Regions from separate parts of the Homo sapiens genome. Here all the other regions are reported to be linked to region 4. Evidence: microRNA targets listed by miRTarBase, many of them from high-throughput screens and not tested one by one. Region 4 holds a microRNA gene; each other region holds the end of a gene's coding sequence.
The links. The annotated mature microRNA hsa-miR-3671 reads AUCAAAUAAGGACUAGUCUGCA and lies in region 4 at 1,774-1,795, opposite strand. An mRNA with a match to its seed (bases 2 to 7 or 8) in the 3' UTR can be bound and repressed. Matches are read on the target gene's strand: a 7mer-m8 pairs with bases 2 to 8, a 7mer-A1 pairs with bases 2 to 7 and ends in A, and an 8mer does both.

Region 1 (4,336 bases), not on the chromosome of region 4:
GGTACCACAGCATCGTGACCATGCGCCGCACTGTGGTGGTGCTTACGGTCATCTGGACGTTCTGCACGGGGACTGGCATCACCATGGTGATCTTCTCCCATCATGTGCCCACAGTGATCACCTTCACGTCGCTGTTCCCGCTGATGCTGGTCTTCATCCTGTGCCTCTATGTGCACATGTTCCTGCTGGCTCGATCCCACACCAGGAAGATCTCCACCCTCCCCAGAGCCAACATGAAAGGGGCCATCACACTGACCATCCTGCTCGGGGTCTTCATCTTCTGCTGGGCCCCCTTTGTGCTTCATGTCCTCTTGATGACATTCTGCCCAAGTAACCCCTACTGCGCCTGCTACATGTCTCTCTTCCAGGTGAACGGCATGTTGATCATGTGCAATGCCGTCATTGACCCCTTCATATATGCCTTCCGGAGCCCAGAGCTCAGGGACGCATTCAAAAAGATGATCTTCTGCAGCAGGTACTGGTAGAATGGCTGATCCCTGGTTTTAGAATCCATGGGAATAACGTTGCCAAGTGCCAGAATAGTGTAACATTCCAACAAATGCCAGTGCTCCTCACTGGCCTTCCTTCCCTAATGGATGCAAGGATGATCCCACCAGCTAGTGTTTCTAATAGCTAGGTTCTATGTGAACAGTCTTATTGTAGGGGCAACCTCTTAACTTTGTGACTGGACAGATAAAACGATGTAGTAAAAGAAGGATAGAATACAAAGTATTAGGTAGGTACAAAAGTAATTAAGGTTTTTGCCATTACTTTCAATGACCAAAAATTGCAATTACTTTTGCACCAATCTAGTAAAACAGCAATAAAAATTCAAGGGCTTTGGGCTAAGGCAAAGACTTGCTTTCCTGTGGACATCTAACAAGCCAGTTCTGAGGTGGCCTTTCCAGGTGGAGGCCATTGCAGCCAATTTCCAGAAGTTAAGTACCTGGACATGCGACTCCAGGCAGAAGATGTAGGGTCTCTGTAAGCCAATAATAAATTGGAAGGAATGCATTGCTGCAGCTGAATTTGTCTGTCTCCCACAGCCATGTGGAATCTCCACCCTCCTCTTTCTCCCTGTTAGTCTGATGTATTGATGCCACCTCAGTTTCAGAAAGTAGGCTGAGTATAAACTATAAATGTCAAATAACGAGCTTCGAGTTTCCAATGATAAATGGACCTTCTCTGTTAGTCTTCTTTGCTCACTCAGTATCCCACTGGCCTTAAAACCCTTTCCTGTTACATTTCCTCATGCTTTATGAGCATACATTTCAAAGGAAGAAATGAAAATTTAATCCATTTAGTTCCCATGTGGGAATACATAAAGGCCAGATGAAAATTGTCACTATTTGAAGAAGCTGTAACCAAACTATGTGTGTTACAATGTAGAAGTACAAGAAAAGAGCCCCAACATGTATTTTAAGAAATAAAGAGAGAGAGACAGAGACAGACAGAGAGAGAGAGAGAGAGAGAGAGAGAGAGTGTGTGTGTGTGTGTGTGTGTGTGTGTGTGTGTGTGTGTGTGTGTGTGTGTATTTTCCCCATGCTTTTGGACTATGGGGAAAACCAAAACCAAAGCAAGACATCAAGCAATGGTGCTGTTATTATAGCCCCAAGTCAAAGACCTGAGGGAGGCAAACACCACCTCATTCTGCAGATGAATGTGAAAGCAGACCCAGTCACTGGGAAATGTCATCCTCCCATCAGCCAAGATGCCAGCAATGGAAGAGTGGCAACCCCAGTAGGAATAAAAGAAACATAATTTGCAAGTTCATTCATTTTTAATAGCTAAAAATCAGCTTAAAGGAGAAGCACATCCTGATTGTAAGTCCCCACTAAGTTGGAGGGTGACTTGAATGGGGTGAAAGGTGAAAGGGACAGAGGAGAGCAGTGGGGCTTCAGAGGCCACCAGGCTCAGGATCTGCAGGATGGATGGTATCTTCCAGAACAGGCAATGCTTTGCCCTCAGGAGAATTTCCCAGAGCTGCTGAGGGGAGAAGACAGCCACACACAGGACAGACCATTTGGTGATGGGTTTGATATTAGAAGTGGCAGGGACAGGAACTTCAGAAGCAAAGGAGGCAAGGCAGCTGGAGTCAAGTGAGGACAGTGGCAGGCGTGCTTTCACATGGCCTGTCCCACAGATGGAGGTGAAAGGTGCACCTTCTTGTCCTCTGTTCTGTAGAAATCCTTCCCTGTTTGATCCTTCCCCTGCCAAATGAACTATGTTACTCTAATACTAACCTGTATTAATTAATATATGAGATATATATAAGTTAATTTTTCATGAAATCTAAAGCACAACCCTAGAACTAATTTTTAAAAGTGTTATTTCTACCATTGAAAAAGTAATGTATAACATATTTTATGTGATTAAAGTGCGTATTCTCAATAAGAGGTAACCTTTTTTTGATGCTGCAATGCTCTGTGATACCACAGAGGTAAGCAATGCCACTTAACCTGTATCATAAATAGTCCCAAACTGCTCTTCCTATAAAATTCTGCCTTTGTCAACAGCTTTGCTGTCTCCTAATCACTCTCAAGCTCTCTGCTGTGCATGTGACTGTTGTCAGAAGGAAAATCACCAAGAAACTTCACCTCTCACTGCCTTTGATTTGTTGCAGTTAATCTAAGAAACAAAATGAAGATGGCTAGTCTAATGGTGGATGAAACAAAAATGAAGTCTGAGTGCTAATTCAGAGAACTTGCAATTCCAGACATTTTCAATTCTAGGTCTTCTGCTATATTCCAATCAGAACAGAAGCTTCAGGGCTCATAGTTACTGAGAAAACTCACGTTTTTCTACCTCTAACTTCATATAGAATTCCAAATGAAAGCACCACCAAACTGCACATATTTGTGTGAGGAAGATCAACAAGCTTCAGACTTTTCCCATGAGGACTTAATTCTTTTATCAAATTACCCAATTTTTAAACTGCTGTGTGGATACTGTGAGTGTTCAGCTTTATCGATGACCTAGCCTTGGACCAGATAGCTGAAAATGTTCAGGATGTGTACTCAAGCTGATAGTAATTCTGAGCCCTGTCTAATAAAAAAGGAAGGATGTTTCCTCTTCCTCTCCTCATTTTCCCACCAGGTCATGGACAGACAAGAGAAGTTCAGCAAACACCGCAGCTGCCCCTGCAGCCACACATGTGTTGAGCTATGGTGAGAAGAGCATGGGTTAGGAGTCCCTGAGAAGCACGAGCAAACCAGTCAGTGAATTCTGAAACGTGGTCAGAGTTGCTGATGTTTATGTGGCTGTAGCAAGATATCTAGTAATAATAATACAAATAATAACAGCAATAATAATAGTACCTATCTATTACGGAGCAGTTGCTACAAGCCAGGTATTGTTCAAAGAGCTCTACATGCATTAATCCTCACGACTACCCTAAGGGCAGGTGTATTATTGGCCTCATGTTTTTAGGTGAAAAAGCTGAAGTTCAGAGATAGTAACTTCTGCGGCAGGCAGACTCTAAGGTGGTGTTCAGAACCCCTCCCCCTGAAGTATGGATAGGACCGTGACTTGCTTCTAACCCATGGAATGTGGCAAATGTGATGTGAGGTTGCTCTCATGATTACAGTCCATTATCTAAAACCCTGTCTTGGCCAGGCATGGGAGCTCACATTTGTAATCTCAGTGCTTTGGGAGGCCAAGGTGGGAGGATTGCTTGAGCCTAGGAGTTCAAGACCAGACTGGGCAACATAGGGAGACCTCATCTCTACAAAAAATAAAAAATAAGTTAGCTGGTTATGGTGGCATGTGCTCTAGACTACTCAGAGACCCTGTTACTAAAAGAAAAAAAAACATAATCTTGCTAGCAGACATGTTAGAGAGCCTCTGCTTTCTGACTTGATGAAATAAGTGAATATGCTGGGTAACCCCACATGGCAAAGAACTGCTGGGGCCTGTAGGAACTGCTGGGGGTCTCTGGGAACTGCTGGGACCTCTATGAACTGCTGGGGGCCTCTAGGAACTGCTGGGGGCCTCTAGGAACTGCTGGGGCCTCTAGGGACTGCAGGAGACCTCTAGGTACTACAGAAGTGATGCAGGATTTTTCTCAACCACTTTGTCGAATTTGCAATGGGGGTTCCACATTTACTCGGCCCACAGCGCTCAACCCCCTGTGGAAGGGAGCACGTGATTAAGTGAGTGCAGGATCCAGCCAGCTGCTTTGGGTGCCAGCAGGAGCAAGCTCTATGCAGACCCTGCGGTAGTGCCCAGGTGGGGGTGCCTGTGATCCCCAAAGTCCCTGAGGGCATGTTATAATGCTCTCTTAGCTCCACTCTCCGTGGACAGCAGTGTGTTATCAGTTCAGTGGGCCCCTTGCCTC
Region 2 (4,336 bases), not on the chromosome of region 4:
TTTCTTACGACTATTATACTGTCTTGTGTGTGTGCCTCATTGTTTTGGTAAGAAAAAGTGGACACTGTGTGTGGCAAACCCTGGACATCAAATTCTCACCCCTGAGCAGGCTTTCTTGTTGCTGCTGGTTGTGAGTTGGAGTCTTCTGTTTTTGTTTTCATTTTTTGTTTTGTTTGAACCTTTGTAAACTACTGTGTAAAGGTTTCACTTTCTCCTGTGTGGCCACTGAAGTCTCTGCCTTCTGGTCTACTAACAATTTGATGGAGATTTTTAAAACATGCCTGAACGCAAACCCAAAATTCTCTCAAGCTCTTTGCCATGGGATCCCTCTAGGGAGCTTAGCCAGGATTTTGATTTTTTTTTTTTTTTTTAGACGGAGTCTAGCTCTGTCGCCCAGGCTGGAGGGCAGTGGCGCGATCTCGGCTCACTGCAACCTCCACCTCCCAGGTTCACTAGCCAGGATTTTTACAACTCTCATTTCAGCCTTCATTTCCTGCTTGCATGGAGCCTCGGGATCATCAGAGGTAAAACATAGGGTTTCTCAGATTTTTATAATCTTGCATGGACATGTATGATTGAACTCAATCCTTGGTATACCTCAGTGCTATTCAAAGCCCTTACTATCTCATGTAATTCTCCCCCCAGACTCTTCCTTAATAGGCTTTTCATTCTGTCATCTGTTTTCCCTGTTATCCCTCACCCAGGCAACTTCAGCAAGTGTATTTGTCTTTAAGTGCTTTTAATGACACTGGCACCCCCCAATAAATCAGCTTCAGTCTGTGTAGATCTAAAAAGGGTGAAATAAAGGCAAGCCCTTGAGCCAACCCTTCAAGGAACCACTAAGATAGATGGAGGCACACAACCACAATTCTTTGAGAACAAAGATTCTTCATCCTGTGGCATCAGCGTGCTGGCCTGGGAATGAGGGACTCCATGTTCTCAGCAGCCATCAAGCTGCAGAGTGGGGAAGAGTAGGTGGGTGAGTCAAATTACCACAACTCAGCTGGGTGCAGTGGCTCACGCCTGTAATCCCCGCGCTTTAGGAGGCCGAAACGGGCGGATCACCAGGTCAGGAGATCCAGACCACCCTGGCCAACATGGTGAAACCCCATCTCCACTAAAGATACAAAAATTAGCTGGGCGTGGTGGTGGGTGCCTGTAATCCCAGCTACTCGGGAGGCTGAGGCAGGAGAATCGCTTGAACCCGGAAGAAGGGGCTTGCAGTGAGTCGAGATCATGCCACTGCACTCTGGCCTGGTGATAGAACAAGATTCCACAAAAAAAAAAAAAAAAAAAAAGCCACAACTCTCTTCCTGAAATTAAGCAGCTTCTTCCTTCACTCACGGTTCCCCTGGAGGTTGTAAATTATTAGATTCAAATTTTCCACAAAGGCTGATTTTGACAGTTATTTCCCAGTTTAATTTTTGTTTTACCAAAGACTACTTTTAAAATTCCCTACCTTGAAACTTGCAGTGAGATCACTCCATTAATTTTAAACAGAATTTTAAAATTCTGATATTATTGCTCTATATGCTCTAAATAGGGCTTTTGTCTATTTGTAGGAATGCTTCCTCTCAGTGCAAATTATCTAGAATAAAGAAGGGAAGTCTGTTTCTCCAAGGAGAGGCACAGGAGGCAGGGCTATATAGGTAACCTGGATGACAAATTACAATATGCCATGGAGTATGTGGACATTGAAGATATGCAATATTGAGGTGGGAAGATGGCTTCAATGACTTCAGAATTTTCAGTCATGGGAAAACAAGAGGTTTCCTTAAATTGTGATAGCCTGGCCGGGTGCAGTGGCTCACACCTGTAATCCCAGCACTTTCAGAGGCTGAGTTGGACGGATCACTCAAGACCAGCCTAGGCAATATGGTGAGACCCCTTCTCTACTAAAAGTACAAAAAATTAGGGGGGTATGGTTGCATGCATCTGTGGTCTCAGCTACTGGGGAGGTTGAGGTGGGAGAATCACTTGAGCTCAGGAAGTCGAGGCTGCAGTGAGTTGTGATCGTGCCACTGCATGCCAGCCTGGGCGACAGAGTGAGATCCTGTCTCAAAAAAAAATTATCTTATTTTAGAAACATGTCAGAAAAATCAAAGAACAAGCCCAGTTGAAACTACAGTAAGATCCTTTGATTCACCTTCAAGGTTTCTTTCCACAGCTGATTATGACTTGATTCTGAAATCAGAGTTTTGAAAAGGAACATAGAAAACACTTTTAGCCAGTTATTCTGCTAATCATCAGAATCTTCACATCATGTCCAGAAGTTGCATTTATCAGAAGTGGCTGAGGAGGTTTTGCATTGGGAATCAAATATTCTCATCAGAGAAGCCCCAGACTCACTGAGGCAATGTCACTGAGAGATACTACAGATGACATGATCGTGACATCTCTGTGGGGAGATCAGGTCCAGGAGCCTGTCTCTAACTAAGGACTCAGGTGCCCCAGCTTATGGTGACTGACACATCCCTGTACAGAGCTTGTTGCCAAGACCACCCCAGTGAGTGCTTCTGTACATTTAGAGCAAAAGGCAGAACATAAAGATCTCAAACAGGAGAAGAGCTCAGAGCTGAGGGTGAGCAATAGCATTGGGCAAAATAGGTTTACCCCTGCCTGGCTCTGAGCCACACCATCCATGCCCCGGCTGGACCAAGACAGTGGCACATTAAGCCAGGTGCTTGGCTTGAGCTCCTGGCTCAATGTGGGACCAGAAAGCTCAGGTTTACTGTATACCCCTGTGTCCTAGAAACACTGTCAAAGGGAGAAATTAGGACAGTTCTCCTTAGAAACTGAGCCAAGGATCACTTGAGGTCAGGCGATCCAGACCACCCTGGCCAACATGGTGAAACCCCATTTCCACTAAAAATACAAAAATTAGCTGGGCATGGTGGTGGGCGCCTGTAGTCCCAGCTACTCAGGAGGCTGAGGCAGGAGAATCACTTGAACCCGGGAGGCAGAAGGCTGCAGTGAGCTGAGATCACACCACTGCACTCCAGCCTGGGCAGCAGAGCGAGACTCCATCTCAAACAAAAAAAAAAAAATTTTTTTTTCAGCACGTAAAGACCCTAAAACCTACCCACCTTGAGTAGGTATCCTCTCACCTATGGAGGCCTATTAGGTACAGCAACCAGATGCTTAGCAATGGGGCATTGTAAATACAGTGTCAGGGTTGGAAACATTATCAGAGGATGCCCAGTTCAACTCCCTCTTCTGAAAGAAGGTGAAAAGGAGACGCTTTTTCTGAGGCCACACATATCTGACATTTCTCCACAGCTTAGAGAAGTCACCCTTCATCCCATGGAACACACACAAGTTTGTGAGCGGAGCTGGCTAAGAGCAGGGGAGATACGGAAATGAATGCCAGTTACGGTGTTAGGTAGATCCGGGAAGAACATGGTGCAGCAGGAATACGAAGTCAGGAGGGAAGGTGAGATGAGGATTTCATTTCGAAGGATTCCTAGGGACACCTTCTAACAACTCTCCCTAGACCAAAACAAAAACAAAAACAAAAACAAAAACAAAACCCAGAAAAACAAAAACAAGAAACAAACCATGAAAGGATCATAGTTTCTTTAGTGTTACTCCACCGTGCCCACTGATGAAACAATCATGCTTCACAGCTTTTTCCAATGCATTTTATCCTTTATTACTTCATATAATCCTTTTAATACTCTTGAGACAGTGTAGGAATTTGAAGTGGTTGACTGGATCAAGGTCACACACACACACACACACACACACACACACACACACACACACACATCAAATAGGAAAATTATAGTCCTAATTCTCTTGCATCCCAGTCACGGTAGTAATTTATAATAAATACTGTTTACGTACAACATGATCAAAGGGGTTGCCTAGATGCTGTATTTGACGTTCTCATGGCTGCAGACATTCTGGGAAATTTGAAAAACATGTAATCCAAATTAGAATTAGGTATTATTGAACCTGGCTGAGAAGCAGGTGTCACACCAATTTCTCTGCCTTCCTTTAAAGACCAAGTTTCAGACAGAAAGATCAAACTGGGTTTTCTTTCCTTTACAGTCATCAGCAACTGCTGGGTTTGTGTGTTCAGGCCAGTTAATGGAAGCCTGAAGGAAAACAGAGAGAGAACGCCGTTAATGCTACATGTGAGGTCTCAGCTTTGTTGCATCAATGACTAATTCCCCATATGGCATCCTTTGGGTATTCTTGGGAGTATCTCAAGCCATCTCTGAGGAAACAAAAATCTGTTCCAGACTGAAAACCGTGAGATAGCGATTTCTCCATTAAATATTAGAATGTAAGACAAGATTTCCACTGGGAGAACTGTTTGAAGTAATATTAG
Region 3 (4,336 bases), not on the chromosome of region 4:
AGAGATGATTATTCTGATCCTCATGGATCACCAGCTCCACGCTCCAATGTATTTCCTTCTGAGTCACCTCGCTTTCATGGACGTCTGCTACTCATCTATCACTGTCCCCCAGATGCTGGCAGTGCTGCTGGAGCATGGGGCAGCTTTATCTTACACACGCTGTGCTGCTCAGTTCTTTCTGTTCACCTTCTTTGGTTCCATCGACTGCTACCTCTTGGCCCTCATGGCCTATGACCGCTACTTGGCTGTGTGCCAGCCCCTGCTTTATGTCACCATCCTGACACAGCAGGCCCGCTTGAGTCTTGTGGCTGGGGCTTACGTTGCTGGTCTCATCAGTGCCTTGGTGCGGACAGTCTCAGCCTTCACTCTCTCCTTCTGTGGAACCAGTGAGATTGACTTTATTTTCTGTGACCTCCCTCCTCTGTTAAAGTTGACCTGTGGGGAGAGCTACACTCAAGAAGTGCTGATTATTATGTTTGCCATTTTTGTCATCCCTGCTTCCATGGTGGTGATCTTGGTGTCCTACCTGTTTATCATCGTGGCCATCATGGGGATCCCTGCTGGAAGCCAGGCCAAGACCTTCTCCACCTGCACCTCCCACCTCACTGCTGTGTCACTCTTCTTTGGTACCCTCATCTTCATGTACTTGAGAGGTAACTCAGATCAGTCTTCGGAGAAGAATCGGGTAGTGTCTGTGCTTTACACAGAGGTCATCCCCATGTTGAATCCCCTCATCTACAGCCTGAGGAACAAGGAAGTGAAGGAGGCCCTGAGAAAAATTCTCAATAGAGCCAAGTTGTCCTAACCATCTCCAAACTTGGAAAATCCCGAGAACCACCTACTCTGTAGTGTCAGAATTCTGGACGCTCATTATTTATAGCATGCTCAATGTTTAAATGAATATATTATGGTACTAGGTATAAAAAAGAACCAGAACTTTTAGCTCCAGGGAGAGGAAGGAAGACAAGGAAAAGTCAACCTGAAAAGAGATTGGAGTGGGAGTTTTGATTCCCAGGACAAGTGACAAAAGGATTTGAAATTAAAGCCTGTGCAATCCAAATATGGCACACTTCACCTGTCTGTGATTATAAGAGTAATTTTTTTTGCAAAATTTTTAATGAAAGATTTTCATCATATAGAAATGTTAAAAATAATATGTAGGAAGTTTCCTATACTCAGTACTGAGATTGTGTAATTGCTAATATTTGCTGTCTTTACTTGGTTACATAGATGTAATCTATCCGTGAGTTTATTCATCAATCAATTCACTCATCAAACCACCTTTTTTTGATTCATTTCAAGGTGAGTTCCGGACATCAGCATTAGTACCCTTTACTTCTATGCACTTCAGAATTATATCATCAATTAGGATTCAATATTTAGATTACATTTATTTTTAATGATCAAACTATGGTCGTTTGATGATCCAATTAGCAAAGCTGACCCTACTCAAGGTATGCCTTAATATTCTGGTAGTAGTTCTCAAGAAGGCCTCACACAAACTTTTAACAATGCCTACAATAACATGTCTGTCAATTGCTATCACCTCTGGATATATGCCCTGTTCTTTTTCTTCCTACCTATTACAGTTCTCTCTCGTCATATGGCATGACTAAAAATCCACTTAGCAAAGTTATACCATTCCCACTGCCCATAATGGCGTCTTCAGTGTCTGTATCATAGACATTGACTCTCTGTGTTCTGAAAGCTTTTTCCTTCAGGGAGGCAGAACATTGCTGCATTCCACATGGCGATAGGCAGGAGGGTGGTCCTCGCCTATCCTGGGTCCCTGCACTCTGCAGCAGCTCAGCCTGCATCCAAAGCCTCACAAAATCTGTCTGTTCTTAATCTTTACTTCTCTAATCACAGGGGACTTGTCTCAATCAAACCCAAGGCACTGGAAGAGAGCAGGCCCCATCTATTAATTTTTTTTCATTTAAACAAATTTTTATACCTGGAACTCAAACTTCTTTTCCTGTCTCCTGGATTACTAAAAAAAAAAAAAAAAAAAAAAATCCAAAACCAAAACAACAACAACAAAAAATCCAGGGTACCCTGTATGTGATTGATATAAACAATTGTGGAAAGGGAAAGGTGGGGAGAGGGTGACGGTATCTTACAAACCTAGGATGATTTTAAACTCAGCCAGACAAAAATGCTGTGTGAAACACAGAATTCCAGTTACAAGACTTTAAATGGGAAGAAGATATGTGAAAGGTGGGAGACTCAGCATGCAGGTAGCCAAAGGATATTCAATGGAAGGTGGCTTATAGTAAAATAAAACACATCTGAATCTTTAAAGACATTATATTTATTCTAGAAGACAGAATATTTTAAAGTACATATTGTAATTTTCACAAGAAATATTTTATCCCTTTAATAGTGTTTTGTCTGGTTGTGAAAACCCAGGCTTAAAATTTATAGCTTTACTAAGGGGGATGATTAATAAATAGTATATGTGTCAATTGTGTTACAGGTTGTGTAAAAAATGTTAAAGAAATGTTGGAAAGCTTGAATCAGTGATATGAAATTCCCTCCTGGTTGTGTCTGTGTGAATAAAAGCAGTATACTAAGGAATTATTTGCTGTCTTAGAATCTACCAGAAGTCAGGAAGTACACGATGAATGGAAAGGGGCTACTAAGAGAATAAGTTGCCAGGTAGAAGAAAAAAAATGAATGCCTCCTTCTGATTAAATTCTAAACAAGTATCTGCAGATTTATGTTCAAGAAGGAAGGGCTAAGTGAAAAGGCTGTAGGAACTAGTGGTCATGAAACCCCATGTTGTATACGGAACATCATCTACTTTTTAGTCTATAAATAGAGCTCAGGAAAAGTTAAAAAATGCTTTCCATTTAGGTATGGAAGATGAGTCGGGGTTCAATTATGACATTTTTAAGAAAAGTTGACAATAGGGAAGTTACCTGATTGTAAATAGGTGTGAATATTTCCTTACATTCTGCTATACCTTGTGTTGAACTCATCCAAATAAAAAACCTGTGGTTCTTTTTGTTCAGTTATTTTAATTCTGGAATGGAAATCCTACCATTTTTGACAACATGGATTAACCTAGAGGACGTTATGCTAAGTTAAATAAGCAAGTCACAGAAGGACAAATATTGCATGATTTATATATGAGGTGTCCAAAAATATTATGCTGGTGCAAAAGGAATTGCAGTTTTTGCCATTACTTTCAATGGCAAAACCACAATACCTTTTCACCAACCTAAGTCAAGCTCATAGAAGCAGAGAGTTGCATGGTGATTGCCTCAGCTGGGGAGAGGAAGAAATAGGGGAATTGTTCAATCAGCATAAAGTTTCAGTTATGCAAGATGAATAAGTTCTGGCCACCTGTTGTACAACATAATATCTATAGTTAACAATATATTGAATACTTTAAAACATGTTAAAAGGATAGATCTCATGCTAAATAGTCTTACCACCAAAAGACCAATCAAGCAACCAAACCAAAAATCACAAACCCAGAAAACAACAAAAAAGAAAACCCACAAAAGAACATTAGAAAATTTTTGGAGGTGACAGATATATGATATGTGTATGTCCAAACTCACCAAAATGTATATTAAATAACTGTATTTTTTTTGCATAGCAATTATACCTCAATAAAGCTTGAAAAAATCTGCTTTTGGAAATCTGCTTAAGGGAAATCCAGGTTACTCAAACCAGGAAACACCATCTACTGGGATGTTTTGAATGTGGCTATAGTACCTAAAAGGAGAATAACAAGGTCTTCCGAAGAGAAACCTTGGACATCCAGCTCACAAGGGAATAGCAATGGTAGCATCCATCTGCATCCTGCCTGGTCTCACACCAGGCGCTCAGGCCAGCTCCTCCCATTACCTTTCTCAAGTGTCTGCCAACACAGGGTGCCCTTCAAGCAGACCTTCACTATCAGGGGCCAGGTCCTCAGGAGCTGTCAAAGAAGGGACTTGTTGGTAGCATGACCTTTCTAGTGGGCTTCAGGAGGGCCTCCCACCATTTTCTGCCCCAAACATGAATGAGATATTCTGGGGACCACACTACTTGGTACAAGATGGGGAGAAGAAAAGCCACAGCTCTTACCTGGTAAGTGCGAGTTGGCAGATATTACTTTATTTTGGTTGCAGTGGATATGAGCAATATAGCACGATTTTTGAGTAGCCAAGAACGACCTGAGTCCATCTTAAATCCCTATTTTTTGTTTAAATTTCCTTTGCTTTAAATTAGTTGGCCTGACCTTTTCTTGGAGACTATAGGATATGATAGGAAATGTTGGGTGGTGATGGTCCCTGATCAGCTGAGTGTCCTTCCATAAAACAACTTCCTTGTTCTGTATCTC
Region 4 (4,336 bases):
AATCTTCACCAAGGCCAATGATTGCACAACACATAACTTCTTGAAGCACTTTTTTCCACCTGCTCAAACACTAAACATAAGGAGTGTTTCAAATTACTTGAGGATTCACCAATCCCTAACTTTCCCTTCCTAAAAGTTCTTCCAGAGTTTCTGTCAGAAATTCCTTTTAAGAAAACTCCAAAGAATTTCAGGAGTGGTAGCATAATAACTGGGGAGACCCCTCTCTCTAATTAATCAAAAACGTAGTGTAGCTTATATAGCTTAGAGAAATTGTGGATCTATGAGGACATGTGAAGGTACTGGGCTATAATGTGGTCAATGTGTCTGAAAAAATAACAGTTCTGGGCCAACCAAGTGTGGCTCAAGGGATCACTACTAAGAATGGTTCCTCTTTGGGTAGAGCAGAGGGAAGAGACACTAAAGGGAACTGCAATCACCAGCAAAGGAACACAGTGACCATCAATGTCTGAGGACTGGCACAATGAAGGATAAGAAAGAACCTCTCTGTACGAGGCCTACTCCCTTTCAGTTCCCTTTCTTCCCCATTGTGTCCCAGTGGAGGACCTGATAATACACCTGACCCATATCTAAGACATGCAGTTGGCAGGGCTGATAGTAGGTAAGGTTCACAGTATGTTAAAAAGTCACACGAGGCCGGGTGCAGTGGCTCAATGCCTGTAATCTCAGCACTTTGGGAGGCTGAGGGTAGGAGAATCACTTGAGGACAGGAGTTTGAAACCAGTTTGGGCAACATGGTGAAACACCATCTCTACCAAAAATACAAAATTACATGGGCATGGTGGTGCACACCTGTAATCCCAGCTACTCGGCAGGCTGAGGCATAAGGATCACTTGACCCCGGGAGGCAGAGGTTGCAGTGAACCAAGACTGAGCTACTGCACTCCAGCCTGACCGCAGACTGAGACTCTTTCTTTAAAAAAAAAAAAAAAAAAAAAAGTCACAAATGGTTTTTCTCTCCCTGGCCCCTCTTCTCTCTGTGGTAGGTAGGTTCAAATTACAGCCTAACCTCAGCCATCTCTGTTCTCTTTGCTCAAGCATATGGGTCACTGCTTTGGGTTCCTACACCAGTCAGACATCCACAGGCTCCCAGATACAGACATGAGCCTAGGATGAGGTAATATACCCGATTAGGCTCTGAGCCTAAAACACGTTCCATGAAATTACCTGAGCCTTCCTTGCACAGTACTGTGATCTAAGATCTAACACATAATCAAGTCATGCACTTTGTTTCTTATTTGCTATTGTTACATGTGTACAGTGTCCTTAGGAGTCTACAGGGAAGAGGGATAATTGGCAGAGATTGGCATTGGCAGAATCCTGGGTTCTCCAATAACCACCTTTCACCCCCAGCAGTACTCTCTAGAGTAAGATGGAGGTTGAAGATGTGTGCTGTTAAATTTCCTAATCCTGGCTGGGTATAGTGGCTCATGCCTGTAATCCCAGCACTTTGGGAGGCTGAGGTGGGAGAATCAATTAAGCTCAGGAGGTCAAGACCAGCCTTGGCAACATAGTGAACTCCTGTCTCTACTAAAAATTTGCAGGTGGGTGGCCTGAGCCTGTAGTCTCAGACTCGGGAGGTTGAGGTGGGAGGATTGCTTGAGCCTGGGAGATCAAGGTTGAAGTAAGCTATGATCATGCCACTGCACTCCCGTGTGGGCAACAAAAAAAAAATTTCCTAGTCTTTCATGCACGTGATGCTGGCTTGGTGTTTACAGCTTCGTATTCCTGAAATCGATATGTGCCAGATATCACTGCAGACTAGTCCTTATTTGATAGAAATAAAATAATTTACATTTTATTTTCATGTAAATGTGACAGCAGCAGCAATAACATAGGCATTCAGTAAATATTCTTTTGAATTAGGCCAGATCCTAAATATCCTGAAAGAAACATGACATGTCACTATCTACTCCTTCAAGACAAAGATATACTTTTTTTCTTTCTTCACTTCAGTAAGCTGGTCTACAATGATGGACTTTTATTTATGCAACAATTTCAATACTGTTCAACATATTGGGCTTTTTTTTTCTCCCTGTAAGTAGAATCTGATTTTGAAATCTAGTAGTGTACTGACAAGTGCCAAGCTGTTCTAATTAGGTTACCTTTCACATTTATAAAAATGGTACGAAGTTCTCTGAATACCATTCCAGAAATACTAATTCATACTTACCTATTTTCAGTCTCCTAAAGGTTCCAAAGATCTTAATATATGTTCACTCAGCACAACATGGCTGCACCAACAACTACCCCATGTTACAAAACAAGGCAAAGAGAAGCAGAATAACTCTCCCTATGCCCCGGGAGAAGTATGACAGAGGTGCAGGGTAAGAGGGTTTCTGGGTCCCAGCCACCTGTTTCACATTCCTCTTTCACCTTCTTTCTTCCTGGGTACGGTGAGGCTCCTCTGATGGAAGGTAAGATGGCTGCCATCCTTCAGTTATCACAGTACTGTACCTTTAGAATAGACAGCATCAGCACTGTGATAACTGAGCCAGGGCAGCCTGTCAGTCACTGTGTCGGTCAACGGCATCCTTTCTGGTGGCTGCATTACTCTCTCTGAAGGCTCCCCATGAAGTGAAGGACTAAAAGATCACCTTCTGGTTGGAGACGTGAGGAGGCAGAAGAAAAAGAAGGATCAGAGCCCAGCAAGTGGTGAGGCTGAAATATTAAAAGGCCCAGTTGAATTAAATTAGAATGAAAGATGAACACATGACTTATCCATATTAATGAGGATGAACAACTGCATGATTAGGTTTTCACTCTAATACATCAAATATGCAGTAAGCTTCCAGCATATTTCACAGCTTATCTCTTCCATGCATGGATTCACTGACTGTGCCTCCCTGACCTCAATCATTGATTTTTCATATATATACCGAGGAACTACTACGTTCTAAAGCCCTCTTCTAGATGTTCAGGAAATAAAGATAACTAAGACATGATTCCTGTCTTCAAAGTGCTCATAACCAAACATGACAATAATACTTCATATCTGCCAAACATTCAAAACTGCTCTATATGTTTTCTCATTTGGTTTTCACAAGACGCTATGGGGCTGGCAATGAATTATTCATTAATTCATCAAAAAAGGATTCTGGAAATAGATTAGATATTATTACCCCATTTTATAGGCAGAAAAAAAAAAAAAAAACTTAGGTGATTTGCCAGAGATCATATATTGCTAAGTTATGGCGAACCCATGTCCAGAACCATGTCAAATGAGTGAACACAGTGCTTTGTTTTCTCTACCCTACCCTAGCTGTCCAACTCCATCAACTGGATATTCAGTTTACACAAACAAAAGGATTTCTAAAAACATTTACTTTTTGTTTTAGTTTTCTCAGTAACTGAGATCATGAAGCAGAAGCTAGTGGGGCTTTATAATTAAGAAGAAAAATGCACATTAGCAAAAATGACTTTCATTCCTCTTGCTCTGAGTGCTAAGAATGTACTCAAATTAGTAACATTGATATTTTTCACTATAGTTTATGTCAATTCTATACCTATGGTGATACTGACAACCTTCAGAATACCTTTTTAAAAAGTAATAATAACATATACACATCACTTGCTTTTAAATTATCTGTACCTTTGAGACGTACTCTGAAGTCATTTTAGGGATGATTCTTCCTTTTAATAAAAAGTACAAAAGATTCTGAAATTGGAATTCAGGCATCAGAATATCAACTTATTAAAACCATGATTCACTTGGGTTTTTTCCATGTCATAAGGTTTCAAGTTATTTCAATATGAGTGGAACTTGACAGATATTTGAAAAATAATTATGTTTTCATTAGGCATTTGCTCAATTTCAAAGACTCATTATATGCATATTAGATATTAGCACTGTACTTCAAATAAGTCAGGTAGATGAATCAATTCTTTAGATCAGCAGAAGTCAGAAAATAAAAGTACAGTGAATCTAACTCAACTATTAACTTTACGTACTATGAAAATGACCTTATCTTCAGAAAAGCAACATCCAATGAAACAATCCACCTACACACAAATTAAAAACAACATTGCCTAAAATGCAAAAATATCTAAAAATTAAGGAGGTCATCATCTAGGTCTTAGCCAACTGTAATACAGAGTTGAAACACGAGAGGGCAACGAAGATTAAAGAAAAAAAAAAAATCACAGTTGGATCCCATAACCTAAGGTTCTTGGAAATAGTTGCACATTTTTACCCGAATTATAAACATCTGCTACGTGAACAAAGATACTGTGATTATTTTAGAGTAAAATTTTAGATAGCTGTTCCACGAAAAAGGATAAGATTATCAACTAATATTTCTTGACCACAATTCTGTCA
Region 5 (4,297 bases), not on the chromosome of region 4:
TGGGTGTGGTGGCCTGTGCCTGTAGTTGCAGCTACTCAGGAGGCTGAGGCAGGAGAATTGCTTGAACCCAGGAGGCAGAGGTTGCAGTGAGTTGTCTACCAGTCCCACGGCATTAGCACTCGTCCCAATCCAGTACAACCTCAACTTGATTGCATCTGCAAAGGCCCCGTCTCCAAATCACATCACATTCACACTTAACAGGGGTTAAGACCACAAGGTGTCTTCTCTGGGGAACATAACCTGTAACATTTTTCTAAGGTCACATATCTAATAGGTGGGAGAGCCTGGCCTCCAGCTCGACTCATCCTCACTCTAGAATCTGGGCTCTCTTAGTCATTGGTACACACTTCTGTTTCATAGGGAAGGAGGCTGAGGCTAGGAGGACTTGCCTGACTTAGAGCCTATACCCCTAAGCCTTGGGCTCGTGGCCCCCGTCCTCTACCTGAGCAACTTGGAGCCCAGAGGGATGACAGGATTCGTCCCAGCTCCCAGAGAGGAGCCTGGCTGGGCTGGCTTCTTTGTCCTCTCTCCTTTCCCCGCATGGGGCCCTGACTTTATTGTTTCCGCCCCTGCCGCCATCCTCCCTGTCCCAAGTTCCTCGTCTATCCCTACGGGATCCCCGCCCCCTTTCATGTTCTGACGTCCATTTTCTTTTGTCTCCATCCAGGATTCCCCTCTAAAGACCCTCATGTCCCACTATGAGGAGGCCATGGGACTGTCGGGACGGAAGCTCTCCTTCTTCTTTGATGGGACAAAGCTTTCAGGCAGGGAGCTGCCAGCTGACCTGGGCATGGAATCTGGGGACCTCATTGAGGTCTGGGGCTGACACCCCACTCCCTGTTTGACGGCCCAGCCTGGACTTGGGGAGAATGACTTTCCCTTTTTTGCCCCATAAGGGCTAGCATAAGCTGAGGTAGAACTTATCTTTAAGCTGCAGCAAAATCAAGGAGTGACTTTTGTCCCCTCTCCTGTTGACCCTGGTTTAGAGCCGTTAACCACTTGGTGAGTTATGTGGGTGTTGTTGCCCTGGGTGGCCTGTGGCTCCGTCCACAAGTCATGCTGAGTTTTGCAGCCTCTGTGACTTGGAGATGTCCCTTCACCCCTCCCCTTTCACCACCATCCTCTTTTCCTCATGGAAATGTCTGCTTTATGAAACTATGCACATATTGAAAGTGAGTTGAAACAAATGAGGGTTGGGTAGGAGCTTCCAGGCCTGGGATTTACACCACGCCTAGCCCAGCAGAGGCCTTAGTCCCATTTGGGGCTTGGGAGTGACATTTGCTTGAGGCTTATACACTGGTGTGGTTGCCTGGCTTGCAGGAAATGACCAAGCTCACACATGCTGGCTGAAGCGTAAGCAGACAACTGAGGTACTCTTTTGAAGGATGAAGGTGGTGGATTCTCAGCCCTGGGGGTCTTCCTCACCTGAGGACCCTTCAGAGCCACCCTTTCTAGTTTGCATTTCCTGGTGCACACATTTAAGGCATAACAGCACATTCATCCCTTTGGTTTGGGATCTCAGGAATACAGTCCCATGCAAAGATTCTCTGGTTTTATGGCTTTTTTCCCTTTCTTTACACCATCCTCTCCCATAAGCACCCATGTCTTTGAATATGAATGTATTTGTAAAATACCACGTTTCATGTGTGAATATGTGCTTTTACTGTACATAGTGCTATTGTGCAATAGGTCTTATGCTGTTTTCACTCAATGTGTGCTAAGATCTAGCCCCATTGACTCTTCTAGAAATGCAGTATTGCTTTGACCTGCCATGTGGCACTCCACAATGTCAATTGCAGTTTACACACATTGCCTAAAGTGGGGGACACCTGGGTGCCCCTGACCCCTTGGCACCGGATACAGGCCACGATAAACATCCTTTCGTGTGTTCCCTTCTGTGCTTGTGTGGCATGTGTACCCAGGATGGGCCTATAGGTCACAGAGGTCAGTTTCTCTTTGGTTTTCCAGATTTTCTTTAGAACGGTGACTGACCCTCCTACTTGAGGCCGCCCTTTTCTCCTTATCCTTGCCAGCACTTGTATTGCCAGACTACCTAATTTTTGCCAGTCTCATGGGTAGATAGTGGTGCAGTGCTTTAACATACATTCATCTGATCAGCATTAATTTGGGGAATTTTTTCACTTAGCCTTTCTGGTTTCCCTTCCTGTGCATTGCCCATTTTCTCATGGAGTTTCTTATCTTTTTTGGTTTATTCTCAGGAGTTGCTTGTACATTCTTGGGCAATTGCAGATAATTCCAAGAATGCATATTTGGGCTGGGTATGGAGGTTCACTGGTAATCCCAGCACTTTGGGAGGCCCAGGCAGAAGGATCGCTGCAGCCCAGGAGTTCGAGACTAGCCTGGGCAACATAGCGAGACCTCGTCTCTACAAAAAAAAATTAAAAAGGGGGCTTTGGGAGGCCAAGGCGGGCAGATCATGAGGGCAGGAGATTGAGACCCTCCTGGCCAACATGGTGAAACCCCGTCTCTACTAAAATACAAAAAATTAGCTGGGCATGGTGGCGCACACCTGTAGTCCCAGCTACTCTGGAGGCTGAGGCAGGGGAATCGCTTAAACCCAGGAGGCGGAGATTGCAGTGAGCCAAGGTTCCACCACTGCACTCCAGCCTGGCGACAGAGCAAGGCTCCACTCAAAAAAAAGATTTAAAGGGGAAAAAATTGAAATTTTCTTTGTATCTAGGGGTATCCGTCACTGAACAGAAATTCTTAATTTTGGCTAGGCGTGATGGCTCAGGTCTGTAATCCCAGCACTTTCGGTGGCCGGGGTGGGTGGATCACTTGAGGCCAGGAGTTCAAGACCACCCTGACCAACTTGGTGAAATCCCATCTCTACTAAAAATACAAAAATTAGCTGGGTGCAGTGGCGCATGCTTGTAATCCCAGCTACTCAGGAGGCAGAGGCAGGAGAATCACTTGAACCCGGGAGGTGGAGGCTGCAGTGAACAGAGACAGTGCCACTGCACATCAGCCTGAGTGACAGAGAGACTTTGTCTCAAAAAAAAAAGAAAATTTTAATTTTAATGTAGACAGTATGAATTATCTTGTTCTGCAGTTGGTTGCTTTTTGATTGCTTATTTAATAGAGTTGTTAAGATATTTTACATCTTCTCCTGTTAGCTGTTCAGCTTTTCCTTTCATATTGAGAACACTACACAGTGCTGAAGTCCAGCTGGTACACACCGGGGTGACACCTTGGCTGCATCTGTTCTCAACAGTCAGACACTTCTTCTAATTGGTTGATGCTGGGCTGTACTGGTTGCTAAATATTGCACATCATTTTAAAACTATTTGAGATGCACTTTTGTACTCAGGAGGCCAAGGCAGGAGGATTGCTTGAGCCCAGGAGTTTGAGACCAGCCTGGGCAACACAGCGAGACCTTGTCTCTTAAAAAAAAAAAAAAAAAAAAATGAGAGAAATCGGCTGGGCATGGTTTCTCATGCCTGTAATCCCAGAACTTTGGGAGGCTGAGGCAGGTGGATCACCGGAGGTTAGGAATTCAAGACTGAAACCTTGTCTCTACTGAAAATACAAAAAAAAAAAAAAAAAAAAATGAGCTAGGTGTGGTGGCAGGCGCCTGTAATCCCAGTTACTTCGGGAGGCTGAGGCAGGAGAATCGCTTGAACCCAGGAGGCAGAGGTTGCAGTGAGCCAAGATCGCGCCATTGCACTCCAGCCTGGGCGACAAGAGTGGAAACTCTGTCTCAAAAAAAAAAAAAAAAATTCAGTGAAATACACCTTTATATATGAGATCCAAGTTTCACTTTTTGTGATATAATGAGCCAGTTTTCTCAGTAATGTCTACTAAAAAAAAAGCCATTAACCTTTCTCTAATATTTGCATGATTCTAATAAAAGTATGTCAACTTCTTAAAATGTTTTATTGAAATGTGGCATTCCTTTGAATTTTATGACATTAAAATAATCCACGACATGGTACAGCTCTTCACTTTTTCAGCTTTTTAAATGTCCATTAATAAGTTTGAATACGTTAAAATTATATGTTTAACCTCAACAAAATAAATGGCAATATGTTCAACTTGTGTATACTGGAGGATTTTTGTCTTTGTGGCCCTCATGTGACCCCCACTAAGATCCTTGTGACAGAGACAGGAATAAGATCCTTATTCCTTCACATCCATTCTTCCTCCTTCTGTGGTACTAGAACCCATGGTTTTTAGCGAGGCACAGAGACACTCAGAATAAAAACAGTGGCCAGGCATGGGGGCACACACCTGGAATCTACCTAGCACCCTGGGAGGCTGACGTGGGAGGATCGCT
Region 6 (4,279 bases), not on the chromosome of region 4:
AATCCTGCAGGGGTGTCTGTTTCACAAGAGTTACAAGAATACAGGACCATTCCTTCTACCAAGGAGGCTAGTGGTTCGAGATCCTAGAAAACTAGGACTCCGCCTTTACCAAGAATAAACAACAGCTTCTCCTTCCCCAAATTGCAAAAACAAACAAACAAACAAACAAAAAAAACACCCAGGCTTTCTCAGGAAATCTGGTCCCCAACTTTGAATGCCCTCCTTGTTTGCTACTGCATATGTAATTGAAATGCCTCCAAGAGATGCAAATAATTTTTGTCTATTTAATCTGCACACTTTTTGAGGCTGGAGTCCCGAGTGTGTCAGTATTACTGCCCATTCCCGAATCGAGGCACAGAGATGAAAGTGCAGCAATCAGACATAATGGTTCAGTGCAGCCTGTGTCAATGCTTGCACAGTAGTGTGTTAATGAGTGTTAAAACTGACATCTCAAATATGGCATCCTCAATTTTAAAAATTACAGCTCTGTAAGAAGTCATGCTGTTAAAACACACAAGAAATACCAGTTACGCCTTCAAGTAGCTAACACACAGCCTGTACAGATCACCACTATCCCAAAGTGCATAACAACTTATTTTCTTTGAAATGCGGCAAGAATTAGCAGGTAGTTCAATTATTTGAGTGCTAAGATAAGTAGAAATAACAAATGCAAATGTTAAATACCAATTACTACCTTACGAGCTACAAATCAGCTTGGCATTACAACATGCCCTTCCTCACTCACAAACCCGAGAAATGTGGGGGTTTGGCAGAAAACACAAACCTATAACCAATATGCATTTGTGCAACAGACGTGTCACTTCCCAACCCAGCACTTCCAAAATGCACATCACAGATATCAAAGCCTGGCCCATATATTTGGCCCACTGGCATTGAAAACAATAACCTTCAAATGCTGGGAGTGACACTTCTCTCAAGCTCACAGCTGGAAACAAGTCATCTCCAGTTTCTACTCTGTCCCCCTAAAGGAGGTTTACAGGTCAGTCTGACAGCCTGGTTGCCAAAGATGTCACCTCATATTTTTACAGAAAATTAACCTGACTCTCCCTGGTTAGCTTCAGGGACTAAAAGAAACTGCTGGTTAGATGTTATCTAGCAAGGTCGATCAAAGACCCAGTGGAGAGCACCTGTAAACTTCAAACCTTAGTGAGACTTTAGGGGAGAGGAAGATTATTTCTCCCTGGGTCACCATTCAGTCTACATTCCTTGTGGGAATTAGCTCCAGGGTTTAAGCCAGCCGGGTTGTTCTTTCTCCCACTTATCTGAAACCACCACTTGAAAAACTCAATGCTATTGGGACATTCTCATGCTCAGAAGTGAGTAAAGGTCCAGTTGGGCAAGATAATATTTTATATAAGTATATATGTATGTACAAGAGATGTTAAAAAGATAGTCTCTAAAGCACGTTGGGATTCCTCCAACGAAAGGCACCAGATAAATGCAAGTCATTACCAAAAAGAAAAGTCAAGTTTTCCAGCTTTCACATCTGCAAAGGGTAACCACTAGGGTACCTCTTTTTTGGTGGTAAGCCTTCTTGTTTAGAAAAATCTTCATGAAAGTGACTGAGTTATTCTGCCTTGTTCCTTGCTTCCACTTTGCATAAGCTTCCTGGTCAGCGGCCATGGATACCAGGCTCAGTGACCCAATACCATCAGCCTTGGCAAACTGATCCGTCCTCATAAGTCTGTACCACCACCTGCCTTCAGTGCAGCTGGGGATGAGTCCGTAAATGTTATGCCTTCCAGGGCTGGAAGCACCAGCCAAATCTAAGTGTTCCATGTGCAAATTCTGAAAAATAACTCTGCTCCTCTGATTCAGTGCCCAGTTGCCTCTAAGTCATCTCACTTTTCCTGATGCTTCAGAGACACGGATGTAGACACTAGGAGACAGCCACCTCCCAGCCTCCCACAAGCCTCCAGTCCAATGGAAAGATTTGAACTGGGGGCTCCAGGACACAAGTGGCTAGTGAATTCATTCAATAAATCACCCACACTGTAGTAGCCATGACAACTACAAGAACACAAAGCCTTCTGATAAGATCCTTGCCACACCTCCAATGAGGTAAGTATCATCTTCAATCAACTGAAACACAAAAGGACCTCTTAAGAAGAGGCCCAACCTTTGGATGAAAACCCTGGATAGCTCCATGCTCAGACCCCTGGGTTCTATTGCCTTTTCAAAGATGGAACAATAATGAAAGCCACCTGGAAAACCATCAGATTACCTTAAAGATGATGGAGAAGAATTATCTTATAGAGGAACCCAGGTTCCCCATCACAATGTTATGTGCTGGTTAACCGAACAAGAGGAGCAGGAGCATTTTGGAGGAGGAAACAGTCGTCTCCCTTCAATACAAGTTTGGAAGCTTGAAGGTCTTTTGAATAGCATTAAGCTTTTCAAGTTTACAATTTTTTATGACATTTTATGAACTAGCAGTTTTTTATTTTACAACTCTTTCCTTTCTCCTGGCCTCTACCCAGTCACCCCCCATGAAAGGCAGTGGGAATGCAAGTAAGAACTGCAGTGTTTCCATCCTGGGTAAGCCACACCACCATCGTGCACGTCTATATTTTGAGTACATGCTTCCATACCACCAGGTTTCCATGTCATGGCAGGAACTCCAGGGCAATCACAGCATCATATACAACATACTATATCCTAGAAGCAAAATTATCTGACTAAATTCTGCTTGGAAATAAAAGGGCTCTCATTTGATGAGCTTTCAGAGTAGGCAACAAAAGTATTTAAGCTACTGCCCTTGCTAGCAACCCAACAACGTTCACCTCAGGGAGACGATACAACAGTAAACTTCTTTTTAGTTGAGGAAGACAACACGACCTTACTCCTAAACATCTTAAAAAATAAATATTTCAAAAACATGCTAATATCTTAGACACAGCAAAGTTTGGTCAAATGGCCTAGATCAGAAACCTCATCCGGAAATACATTTCTCTACAGTCACCCTAGGAAACAAGGAGGCTTGACTGTGAACCAAGGGGCTCAGCCTGCACTAACTTGGCTTTAAGCACCCTAGGGTTTGGACTATTTAGCTGAAGCCCCTCTCCCTAACACATCTGTTCTTGGGAAAAAAATTCGATCTTCACTGCATGTTTAACTAAGTAACATTCTCTAAAGAGTGACATTTATGAGATGAACATCAGTGTACATCGTTCTAAAGATGATTGGTGCACCCATGCAAGCCACGGAACTACAGATCATTTATAAAAACAACTTAGAGACTTGCATTGGTCAAGTCTGCTTAACTTTGCATTCTCTTTGTTTTGGTACTAAAACTAAGTGAAAGCAATGGATAAAGAGCTGAGATTTTGTTTTCACATGACTGTGAGCAAAATCTCATCATATCCTTGCTGACCTCATAGATGCATTTCTACTGGACGACTTGTGGGGGCTTTTTGTACAGAACTCACACGACAACCTCAGAAACAGGAGCACGACAACTCATAGACAGTACTGGGCCACAAGCACTAGAATAGCGTACACGATGGACAGAAAAATTAGCATTCTGGGTGTACTCATCTGGCAAAAAGGTGAACATTTTATGCCCACGATGCAAAGACCAGTGAGTGTCATTTCATGGAAAGGTGCAAAGGCATGGTGTCAGACACACCACCCTCTAAAAACGATTCTAAAAACTGTAAAAGAAACCTGGGTGCATATCCCATGCATCTCTCCCCTCAGGGGCTGGGCATACTCCTTACACCATAACCATAAGGTGCCTGGGCTGTGCCAGAGGCACAAGAGGCAGCTCAGCAATGTGGGGTGGAGGGTGACAAGTCCTCCCGGCTAACGTAGGGAATCATTTAAACTGAGTTCACTTGGTGAGCTCCTGCTCATGTTCGTCAGGCTTGCCATAAGGGATTTAACTTTATGGGCATAATAGTCCCTTAAATTGACCGAAGGGACCTCCTTCATTCCATCTCCAAAGTCACAGCTGCGCATGGCACTCTCAAGTTGCTTTTGGCGCCGGTAAAAGTGGGAGAACTTATTGAAGATCAAGGTGATGGGCAGGACCACCACGAGGATGCCTGCCAAGATGCAGGCAGAGGCAGTCAGCTTTCCTGCCGTGGTCCCTGGGACCACATCCCCGTACCCCACTGTGGTCATACTGACGGTAGCCCACCACCAGCAGGCAGGGATGGTGGCCAGGCCCTCGTTCTCCTCCTTTTCAATGGTGTAGGCCACCACGGAGAAGATGGAAATCCCCACGGAGAGGTAGAGCAAGAGCAGCCCTACTTCT
Region 7 (4,336 bases), not on the chromosome of region 4:
TTCCTGCAATTATATTAGAACCAGCAAGAAAATGGGCTGGGCAGTTCTAAATACTACTGGGGATTATGGCAGGGCTTTAAAGGAAATATAAGCAACGTTTTAAACTGATTTTTTTTTTTGGTTTTTGAGTTTTATTTTTCTTAACTCACGTAGGTTCTACTGGAAGGACTACATCATCAAAGACCCAAACGTTATTTCACCATAGTGATTATTTCAAGTAGCTTGCTACTTGGACTTATTGTACTTCTATTGATCTCATATGTTATGTGGAAGGTAAGCATTTAACAATTACCAACATTAGTCTACTAAAAATGACATTTTCTCAAAGCCAATTTGACTTCCAAGTTATTAGATTTAAATATTTCACTATTTGAATGTTAACTTTTTATGTTGCTCAGTACTGATCTCACATTTCTCTTCAACACCAAAGTCTTTCTAGAAAAATATGCATTCTTAATTTGTTTTGAAAGACAGACGTTCCTTTTAAAAAACCATTTGGAAAAGATTGCAAATTACACGGAATGTCAATTTTGGAGAGAATGTGGTGTGTATCACTGAGAATTTCTGCATTAAAAACAAAAATGTTTCTTTAACCCAGTATGTCCCCACTAATTTTTACTGATTACCTCTGTTAAACCTTTATGACTGATGTTACAAGGGATGCAGTTTAAGAAATATTGGTGTTAACTGCTTAGATATTAGAAATGAGTATAGTAGATAAGAGAGTGTTCATAACTATACACTAGTGATTATGTTATGCTATTTTCAGGCTGGCTTCTTTAAAAGACAATACAAATCTATCCTACAAGAAGAAAACAGAAGAGACAGTTGGAGTTATATCAACAGTAAAAGCAATGATGATTAAGGACTTCTTTCAAATTGAGAGAATGGAAAACAGACTCAGGTTGTAGTAAAGAAATTTAAAAGACACTGTTTACAAGAAAAAATGAATTTTGTTTGGACTTCTTTTACTCATGATCTTGTGACATATTATGTCTTCATGCAAGGGGAAAATCTCAGCAATGATTACTCTTTGAGATAGAAGAACTGCAAAGGTAATAATACAGCCAAAGATAATCTCTCAGCTTTTAAATGGGTAGAGAAACACTAAAGCATTCAATTTATTCAAGAAAAGTAAGCCCTTGAAGATATCTTGAAATGAAAGTATAACTGAGTTAAATTATACTGGAGAAGTCTTAGACTTGAAATACTACTTACCATATGTGCTTGCCTCAGTAAAATGAACCCCACTGGGTGGGCAGAGGTTCATTTCAAATACATCTTTGATACTTGTTCAAAATATGTTCTTTAAAAATATAATTTTTTAGAGAGCTGTTCCCAAATTTTCTAACGAGTGGACCATTATCACTTTAAAGCCCTTTATTTATAATACATTTCCTACGGGCTGTGTTCCAACAACCATTTTTTTTCAGCAGACTATGAATATTATAGTATTATAGGCCAAACTGGCAAACTTCAGACTGAACATGTACACTGGTTTGAGCTTAGTGAAATTACTTCTGGATAATTATTTTTTTATAATTATGGATTTCACCATCTTTCTTTCTGTATATATACATGTGTTTTTATGTAGGTATATATTTACCATTCTTCCTATCTATTCTTCCTATAACACACCTTTATCAAGCATACCCAGGAGTAATCTTCAAATCTTTTGTTATATTCTGAAACAAAAGATTGTGAGTGTTGCACTTTACCTGATACACGCTGATTTAGAAAATACAGAAACCATACCTCACTAATAACTTTAAAATCAAAGCTGTGCAAAGACTAGGGGGCCTATACTTCATATGTATTATGTACTATGTAAAATATTGACTATCACACAACTATTTCCTTGGATGTAATTCTTTGTTACCCTTTACAAGTATAAGTGTTACCTTACATGGAAACGAAGAAACAAAATTCATAAATTTAAATTCATAAATTTAGCTGAAAGATACTGATTCAATTTGTATACAGTGAATATAAATGAGACGACAGCAAAATTTTCATGAAATGTAAAATATTTTTATAGTTTGTTCATACTATATGAGGTTCTATTTTAAATGACTTTCTGGATTTTAAAAAATTTCTTTAAATACAATCATTTTTGTAATATTTATTTTATGCTTATGATCTAGATAATTGCAGAATATCATTTTATCTGACTCTGCCTTCATAAGAGAGCTGTGGCCGAATTTTGAACATCTGTTATAGGGAGTGATCAAATTAGAAGGCAATGTGGAAAAACAATTCTGGGAAAGATTTCTTTATATGAAGTCCCTGCCACTAGCCAGCCATCCTAATTGATGAAAGTTATCTGTTCACAGGCCTGCAGTGATGGTGAGGAATGTTCTGAGATTTGCGAAGGCATTTGAGTAGTGAAATGTAAGCACAAAACCTCCTGAACCCAGAGTGTGTATACACAGGAATAAACTTTATGACATTTATGTATTTTTAAAAAACTTTGTATCGTTATAAAAAGGCTAGTCATTCTTTCAGGAGAACATCTAGGATCATAGATGAAAAATCAAGCCCCGATTTAGAACTGTCTTCTCCAGGATGGTCTCTAAGGAAATTTACATTTGGTTCTTTCCTACTCAGAACTACTCAGAAACAACTATATATTTCAGGTTATCTGAGCACAGTGAAAGCAGAGTACTATGGTTGTCCAACACAGGCCTCTCAGATACAAGGGGAACACAATTACATATTGGGCTAGATTTTGCCCAGTTCAAAATAGTATTTGTTATCAACTTACTTTGTTACTTGTATCATGAATTTTAAAACCCTACCACTTTAAGAAGACAGGGATGGGTTATTCTTTTTTGGCAGGTAGGCTATATAACTATGTGATTTTGAAATTTAACTGCTCTGGATTAGGGAGCAGTGAATCAAGGCAGACTTATGAAATCTGTATTATATTTGTAACAGAATATAGGAAATTTAACATAATTGATGAGCTCAAATCCTGAAAAATGAAAGAATCCAAATTATTTCAGAATTATCTAGGTTAAATATTGATGTATTATGATGGTTGCAAAGTTTTTTTGTGTGTCCAATAAACACATTGTAAAAAAAAGAATTTGAATTGATATCTAAAAACAGAATTTGAATTGATATTTCATCTTGACTTTTAAAGCCCTAGAGGCTAATTGTTAGTAACATCAATTTCTATTAGGATATCCGTTTGGCCACACAGCAGGAGGTTAGAGCAATGGAGCATTACTGAGTTCCTCCCCCTGTCAGATCAGCAGCAGCATTAGATTCTCATAGAAGTGCGAACCATATGGTGAACTGGTATGTGAGGGATCTAGAGTGCCATGTTCCTCAAGAGAATCTAATGCCTGATGATCTGAGGTGGAACAGTTCATCCTGAAACCATTCCCCCATCCACGGAAAAATTGTCTTCCATGAAACTGGTCCCAAAAAGGGTGGGGACCACAGGTTTAAAGCATGGCCACATTTCTTTATATTAAAATTCTAGTTTGTACATTTCTTTTAGAAACAATTACATGTTACTTTGGAATCATTTCTTCCATGCTTCCTCCATAAAGACTGATAAGTCTTGGATGCAATCTGTAAAGAAAATACATTATTTCATCAACTTATTTTGTTGTTTTTCACATACACCTAATAAGTATGGTACACAATGCCAATGCCAAATACAAATTGATAACAAACACAGCATTCCCAACAGAGCTGTAATCTAGAAAACTGAGAAGGTCTGATTGATAAATCATCAACAACAATAATTGCTCTAAAACCTCCTTAACTGACTTCCTTGATTGTCCAATGCTCTCCATTACCTCTGTAAAACAGTCAGTTATGCCTCTAGAACACCCATGTCTAGTGGGCACCCCTGCATGCTTCTTCTAACCACTGAGTGTCACAATGCCTACCAAGAATGCGTTTGCAGGTTCCTAAACCTGTTTATACCAGTTGCTATGTAAAATTGTTCCCAAGGGAAGTTGAATGCTCTGTAAAGGCCTAATAAAAGCAAATTACTGAACAAAACATGTTACAGTAATTATGAGTGAGAGGAAACTAAGATGGAAGGATAAAAATCTAACACTTTACTATTCAGATGGCTCCACTAAAAGATTTAAGATCTTGATCCATTTTTAAAAATCCAAAATGGAAGTTGTAGACATTATCTGTAGTTTATGCACAACAATAAATTAGAAAGCCAATGTAGACACGCATAACCAAAGAAAATGCCTTGGGTCTACATAACAGTTGAATAAATGTAAAGTTGCTTTTTATTTATTGAAATTTGTGCATGTCTCTTTATGCTTCCCTGATTTACTGATTTTTTAAAAACTAACCAACT

Region 1: the mRNA of MC2R is a reported target of hsa-miR-3671. Seed matches in the 3' UTR shown: 8mer at 1,347-1,354.
Region 2: the mRNA of NLRP11 is a reported target of hsa-miR-3671. Seed matches in the 3' UTR shown: 7mer-m8 at 3,769-3,775.
Region 3: the mRNA of OR9Q1 is a reported target of hsa-miR-3671. Seed matches in the 3' UTR shown: 7mer-A1 at 1,032-1,038.
Region 5: miRTarBase lists NFATC2IP as a target of hsa-miR-3671. Seed matches in the 3' UTR shown: 7mer-m8 at 3,306-3,312.
Region 6: miRTarBase lists KCNS2 as a target of hsa-miR-3671. Seed matches in the 3' UTR shown: 7mer-A1 at 909-915 and 7mer-m8 at 451-457.
Region 7: miRTarBase lists CERKL as a target of hsa-miR-3671. The part of its 3' UTR that is shown has no 7-base or 8-base seed match.

Annotation. Positions count from the first base shown.
Region 1 is chr18:13,880,774-13,885,109 of GRCh38, reverse strand. MC2R (melanocortin 2 receptor) reads left to right here. Exons shown (of 2, transcript NM_000529.2): 2 at 1-3,066. The coding sequence ends at 485. Among named protein-coding and RNA genes, the nearest start is that of MC2R, 33 kb to the left of the region's middle.
Region 2 is chr19:55,781,772-55,786,107 of GRCh38, forward strand. It overlaps NLRP11 (NLR family pyrin domain containing 11), which reads right to left. Exons shown (of 10, transcript NM_001394894.2): 10 at 3,628-4,100. The coding sequence ends at 3,854. Among named protein-coding and RNA genes, the nearest start is that of RFPL4AL1, 15 kb to the left of the region's middle.
Region 3 is chr11:58,179,573-58,183,908 of GRCh38, forward strand. OR9Q1 (olfactory receptor family 9 subfamily Q member 1) reads left to right here. Exons shown (of 3, transcript NM_001005212.4): 3 at 1-2,044. The coding sequence ends at 805. Among named protein-coding and RNA genes, the nearest start is that of OR9Q2, 7.3 kb to the right of the region's middle.
Region 4 is chr1:65,055,989-65,060,324 of GRCh38, forward strand. It overlaps MIR3671 (microRNA 3671), which reads right to left and starts at 1,854; the gene lies at 1,767-1,854. It overlaps MIR101-1 (microRNA 101-1), which reads right to left and starts at 2,520; the gene lies at 2,446-2,520. It also overlaps a transcript of JAK1 not described here.
Region 5 is chr16:28,963,038-28,967,334 of GRCh38, forward strand. NFATC2IP (nuclear factor of activated T cells 2 interacting protein) reads left to right here. Exons shown (of 8, transcript NM_032815.4): 8 at 668-4,055. The coding sequence ends at 826. It overlaps NFATC2IP-AS1 (NFATC2IP antisense RNA 1), which reads right to left and starts at 3,407. Exons shown (of 2, transcript NR_186408.1): 1 at 3,379-3,407.
Region 6 is chr8:98,428,960-98,433,238 of GRCh38, reverse strand. KCNS2 (potassium voltage-gated channel modifier subfamily S member 2) reads right to left here. Exons shown (of 2, transcript NM_020697.4): 2 at 386-4,279. The coding sequence ends at 3,826. It also overlaps a transcript of STK3 not described here. Among named protein-coding and RNA genes, the nearest start is that of KCNS2, 4.1 kb to the right of the region's middle.
Region 7 is chr2:181,534,663-181,538,998 of GRCh38, forward strand. CERKL (CERK like autophagy regulator) reads right to left here. Exons shown (of 13, transcript NM_201548.5): 13 at 2,010-3,582. The coding sequence ends at 3,522. It overlaps ITGA4 (integrin subunit alpha 4), which reads left to right. Exons shown (of 28, transcript NM_000885.6): 27 at 154-273; 28 at 770-4,278. The coding sequence ends at 865. Among named protein-coding and RNA genes, the nearest start is that of ITGA4, 79 kb to the left of the region's middle.